Regions from separate parts of the Homo sapiens genome. Here region 1 is linked to region 2. The links come from fine-mapping of genetic effects on gene expression. Tissue or cell type: whole blood. Region 2 holds a variant in brackets; the other region holds the start of a gene. All regions are shown on one strand. Distances are from middle to middle.

Region 1 (2,650 bases), 25 kb after region 2:
CAAGAACTGGCAGCAAACAACATCCAGAAAGATGTTAGTCCCAAGAGGCTGCCACTGTCTCCAAGCTAATGTGCCCACAACCACACTGGTCTTGGATGACACGGCCTGGAAGCGCTGGCAATCCCGTCAAATCCCTGAACTCCGCCCCCAAGCACTTTCTTTCCACCTTTTCTTCCAACTCAAAGCCTCTTGCCCAAAGCCAATTTATGACACAGGTTTCTAAGCAATGCCCAGATATTCCATGAAGTACATAACCTAGAAACAGAAGTGGCAAAAAGCATGCCAGATGCCCTCTCTTTTCAGCCCTTTCTTGGTAAGGAGGATCTAGGCAGGGTCAAGCCCTCAAGCGTCCCACCCTGCAGCTCCCACTGGCGTCCGATCCAGACTCCAAGCCTTAGCAGGGCCTCTTCAAAACGCCGAAGGTGGTGGGGAAAACAGGAAGCACCTTCGCATCGCTCCACTCGGGGGTCACCCAACCCAGCATCGACCCAGCGGACGCTCGGCAGCTCGGGGAGGATGCGCGGACACCGAACGGAAGCGTCCGCTCCTCTCCGCCACCCTCCCGGGGTCGGGCGCCGAAGTGCGGGAAGAGAGGGCGGGCCGGCGAGTCCTTCCCTGCAAGCCTGGCTCATCTGCGGGGCCTCCGCCCGAGCCGCCCCGCCTCGCCCGAGCCCGGCTCGGGGATCCTCGGGAGGGAGCGGGCGGCCCCCGGGCCTTCCAGTCCTACCTTCCCCGACTCTCTGGGCTCCATGGCCCCGCTTTCGGAGGCCCGTGCCGCCCCCTCCCCCCGCGGCCTGGCCTGAGGATGCAGCCGCCGCGACCGCCCCGGGGACCCAGGCTCCCGGAGGGGGAGGGCACCCAGGTAGGGAGGGAGCGCGGCCCAAGAACTTCGCTCTCTCACGTCGGGGGGCGGTAGCGCCGGTGGACCCAGGATAAGCGCGCTGAGCTGAGACTTGCGTCGCACCGAGCGAACAGCTTTACGGTCACTGCCCAGCCCCAGGCGGCGGGGCGTGACGGGAAGTGTAGTCCGCTCTAGGTGAGCGGCTCTCGAAGCTGCTATTGGCTCCCGGAACGCAGGTCCTGATTGGACGCCGGCGGCGCGCTTGCGACCCTCCCCGCCTCCCTCCGGCGACAGTTACTAGGCAACGGCGGCGTGGCGTCCTTTAGTCCTCTGCAGCAAGGGCAAAGCGCTCTGATTGGGCTACGCGAAGGCCAATGTCAGCCTTGAAGTTCTAGGTTTTCTTTTATTAAGGAGGGCAATACTTTTTGTTCTATTCACTCAAAAAGTATCATTGGTTGCCTACCATGGGTCAGGCCGTGTTCTAGGGTTTGGGAGAACACAGTTGAATGAGACAAAGGCCTTGCCTTCAAGGAACTCACGATCTATTAGGGAATCAGACCAGAAACAGATAATTACAAAACAGAGACAAGGGCTATGAAAGAGGTAAGCACAAAACATGAATTAAAGCCCGCGTTGTCACCTTAGAGTGAAGCGGTGGGGGATATGAGGTGCTTAGTCAAGGATTTCCTGCGGAAGTGATGCCTCAGCAGAATTAAAGCAAGAGGTAGGGTCTGCCAGGTAAAGGAGGTGCAATGGACTGACCGGTGTTCCCCTCCCAGGAGATGGGGCGTTTGGGAGGTTTAGATGAAGTCGTGAGGGTCAGGCCCTTATGGTGGGATTAGTGTCCTTATAAGAAGTTTTGTCCAAGTGCGGTGGCTCACACCTCTAATCCCAACTCTTTGGGAGGCTGAGACAGGAGGATCACTTGAGCCCAGTAGTTTGAGACCAGCCTGTGCAACACAGTGAGAGATCCCATCTCTATAAAAATAAAATAATTTTGTGAGGTGGAAGGATCACTTGAGCCTGGGTGGTCGAGGCTGCAGTAAGCCGGGATGGCGCTTCTGCACTCCAGCCTGGGTGACAGAGCAAGACCATGTCTCAAAAAAAAAAAAGACTTTTAGGGGGCCAGGGCAGGGATGTGCCTTCATGAAGGTGTTAGTGACCACATGCGTGCTGGGGGAACTAGCTAGGCCCTTTGCCCTTCTGCCCCTCTGCCTTCTGCCATGTGAGGACAGAGCAAAAAGGTGCCCTCCTGGAAGCAGAGACCAGGCTCTCACCAGACACAGACACTGCTGGTGCTTTGATCTTGGATTTCCCAGCCTCCAGAATCATAAGAAATAAGTATCCATAATTTATAAATTACCTAGTTCCAGGGATTTTGTTACAGAAGCACATAGAGATTAAGACAATGGTCAACTAATTTTTTTGTATTTTTAGTAGAGACAGGGTTTCACCATGTTACACAGGCTTCAAGTAAGCGTTTTCCATTATCCAGCTCTGCTCTTCTGGCCAAGGTTGAATAGACCTAAATTCCGTTCGAGGAGTGTAGGGGAGTCTGCATTACTGAAAAAAAGAATGAGACACAAGAAATGTGGAGGAGAAGGCAGAGAGTGAGGACTCTGTGGATTCCAAGTGGCCTGCCACTCACCACCTCGACTATATCACTACCTTGAAGAGCTATATTTCTGCCCATGAGTTATCCATGTCTTTATAACAGATTCTCTTTTAGGGGTTAAAAAACTGGAGGACAGCTAGGGTAAATCATTCTTTTGACACATTTTTCCATAAAAGGTTTTCCATCTTTCCAAG
Region 2 (2,824 bases):
GCCAGGGTAGGAAGTCCCAGAACAATGCCTCTGGGGGCTCTTGCAGCCAGGCCAGCTGTCCCTAGAGCAGGGGCAACCTCCCCCTCTAACAAGGTGGTCTTTCCCATTCCCACTTAGACTGTGGGCAGCCTCCCTGGAACATTCCCCAGGGATGTCCAACAGTCTCCCCTACCAGGACACTCCTCTTGCCACCAAAACTCAGGGGCTGAAACCTTTCATGATGGGGTTATTTTCTGCAGCACCTTAAAAATGAACTTGAGATATAGAACCTTCTGGCACATTTGTGTGCTGTGAGGCATGGCTGTGCTGAGTGGGGCCTCAGGAAACAGGTCATGCACCTCCTGATACCCCTGCTGCTCTGGGATGCCACTGCCCACTTCCTGGTGCTTAGAGACCATCGCCACCAGCAGAAGATCCTAGGGCAGCCTAGAATCTGCAGAGCCTGTCCCAGTGATCACAGAGGCGTCTCCAAGGCAGTCCCAAGGACTCCCTGTCCCTCAGGACATCCCGGGGGCCTCCTGGCTGGTGTGGGGATACAGGAGTCTCTCGGGAGGCTCCATGATGCAGTCCTTCAGAACCTCCGCTGCTTCCCTGGAGGGCAGGATGGGTGGCTTCTGGGTCCTGGGCTCCTCCACATAGAGGGCTCCCATCTCCTCCTTCCTGAGCCTGGCGCCTGTGAGGGAGGAAGGAGAATACAATTAGACTGACTGACAGTGACCGCCTTCCACATCCAGCTTCGCCCAGGGGCTGTTTGGTGAGGAAAGCTTGGCAGAACAGACTGAAGTCAGGACCACGACTGCTCTTTGCAGCCCTCATCTGTTGCTACTCTGTTCATTCTTTTATCCTGAGATAGGGGATCTCAACTGGGGGCGATTTTGTCCCCCAGGGGCCATTTGCCAATGTCTGGAGATGATTTTTGTGGTCACAAATGGGGTGTGTGCTACTGGTATCCAGTGGTTATCTAATAGGTAGAGGCCATGGATGCTGCTCAAGTTCCCACAGTGAACAGGAAGGGCCCCCAACAGAGATTACCCAGCCCCAGCATCAACAATGCCAAGGCTGAGAGCCCTGCCTGGAAGGAGGCAGCGGTGCGTAGTTTGGCAGTGTTTGGACCAATCTGTGCTGGTCCTGTTGTCCCTGTGGAAAGAGTAACTCGCATCAGGGCACACCTGACATCATTTTTTTCTCCTTAGCACCCACAGGGCTGGACACAGAGCAACTCACCCAGCCCTCTCTCGGCTTTCCCTTTCTCTTATCAGTGAGGGGTCTCTTTTCTT[A/C]TCCCCACCTGCCCTACTGTGGCTTCAGGGCCACCTTGCTTCCTACAGAGCCTCTGTCAGCCATGAGATCCAGTCCCATTTCTGGTGACCACAGACTCAGAGGTGAAAACTGGGAGCAGCAACAGCCGGAAGGAGGCCAGCTAGAGACGCGAGGAGAGAGAGCACTGGGAGCAGCAACAGCCGGAAGGAGGCCAGCTAGAGACGCGAGGAGAGAGAGCACTGCTCCATCCTTGTCAAGTGGTCGCGAGTGGTCTGGAGAACCCCAACAATGGGCATATTTTCTTTGGTTTTCAGTGACTACTTGAAGAGAAAAATTTCCTGTCTGTGGCTTTCAGTAACTTGCCCTCCCTTCTAATACAGCTTCCCCCTCAAGCAAGTTCTTGACCCCAGCCCTCCGGTCCAGAGAGGCTGTTTCTGTTCTCCCCTGCCCCGTGAGATTTCTGCCTGAAAGCCCCACCATCTCCTCCGCATCTCACCTCCTCCACAGCCACATGGACCTCTTCCCTCTTGAAAATTCCTGCACGGTCCAGAGTCTATACAGCCCCACTTAGAATGTGATGGCGCTGCCTGGGGCTGGTCAGCCCTCTCCTTACTCCCAGCAGTGGTCTTGACCTTTAACTAGTACCATTTGCACCACCTGCCAGGCATTGTCCTGAGTGTTTTCCACACACAACTCATTCGGCAGATGAGAAACCAAGGCATCAAAGGACAGACTTGCCCAAGGCCACACAGCCAGTTGGGGGCAGAGCCAGCACAGCACTGTCACCAGGGCAGACAGGCTCTAGAAATGCACGCTCTCTGCACTAAGCCCTGCTGCCTAGAGCACATGTGCGTCATCTCCCTGGCAGGGGTGCAAGCTCCTGGAGGGTGGATGTCACGCATCGAGTACCCACTGGCCTAGCAAATGGGTGGGTGCATGACAGAAGCTCCACAGGCACCTGCAGTCCTGTCTTATTGGCCTCTGGCTCAGCATGAGGCTGCCTTGGGGGAGCTCTGCCACGTGTACTTACTTGCAGGGGAGCGGGCTGGCACCTGGGCACAGGTGTAGACATGGCTGAAACGCCGGCCTGAGGAGGTCAGGTACCAGTGCTGGATGGCGGGCTGGGGGTCGTACTCCGTGACGGCCACGCCGTTCACAGCTGTCATCATGAGCATGTTGAGCACCTCGTTGGAGAGCTTGGTCCTCTCATCGGTCCTGATTCGGTTCATGGCCTTGAACCCCCGCTCACAGCAAGAGGTGGAGATGGGCACACAGACCACCACGGCCATGAGCTTGCTTAGCAGGGGGAAGCGGCAGTGCTGGGCCAGGGCGTTTTTGCAGAGCATGGAGAACGGGAGGTGCTGGGCAATGGTTTTCAGGCCCAGCCACTCCTCCAGCAGAGCTTCCTCACTGTATCCTGTTGGGAGGGAGCACTCGAAATACCTGGCCAGGTTGAGAATGTCATCATTCCCAAAACTGGCAAGTTCAATCCCACTTGGCCAGGCCATGGTGTCAAACACCTCCATGTTCTTCAGCTGTGGGGGTCGGTCTGCGTCAAACCTCTGCT

The links. PIP is the estimated chance that this variant, and not a neighbour inherited with it, causes the effect.
Region 1: it holds the start of ZNF862, and the variant in region 2 is fine-mapped to the expression of ZNF862 in whole blood (TOPMed, PIP above 0.99).

What each region holds. Positions count from the first base shown.
Region 1 is chr7:149,836,713-149,839,362 of GRCh38, reverse strand. It overlaps ZNF862 (zinc finger protein 862), which reads right to left and starts at 988. Exons shown (of 8, transcript NM_001099220.3): 1 at 728-988. The coding sequence starts at 751. RefSeq lists a silencer at 453-912.
Region 2 is chr7:149,861,958-149,864,781 of GRCh38, reverse strand. It overlaps ZNF862 (zinc finger protein 862), which reads right to left. Exons shown (of 8, transcript NM_001099220.3): 7 at 2,288-2,824; 8 at 1-673. The coding sequence ends at 498. Among named protein-coding and RNA genes, the nearest start is that of ATP6V0E2-AS1, 10 kb to the left of the region's middle. The variant A/C (reference allele first, on the strand shown) is at 1,278.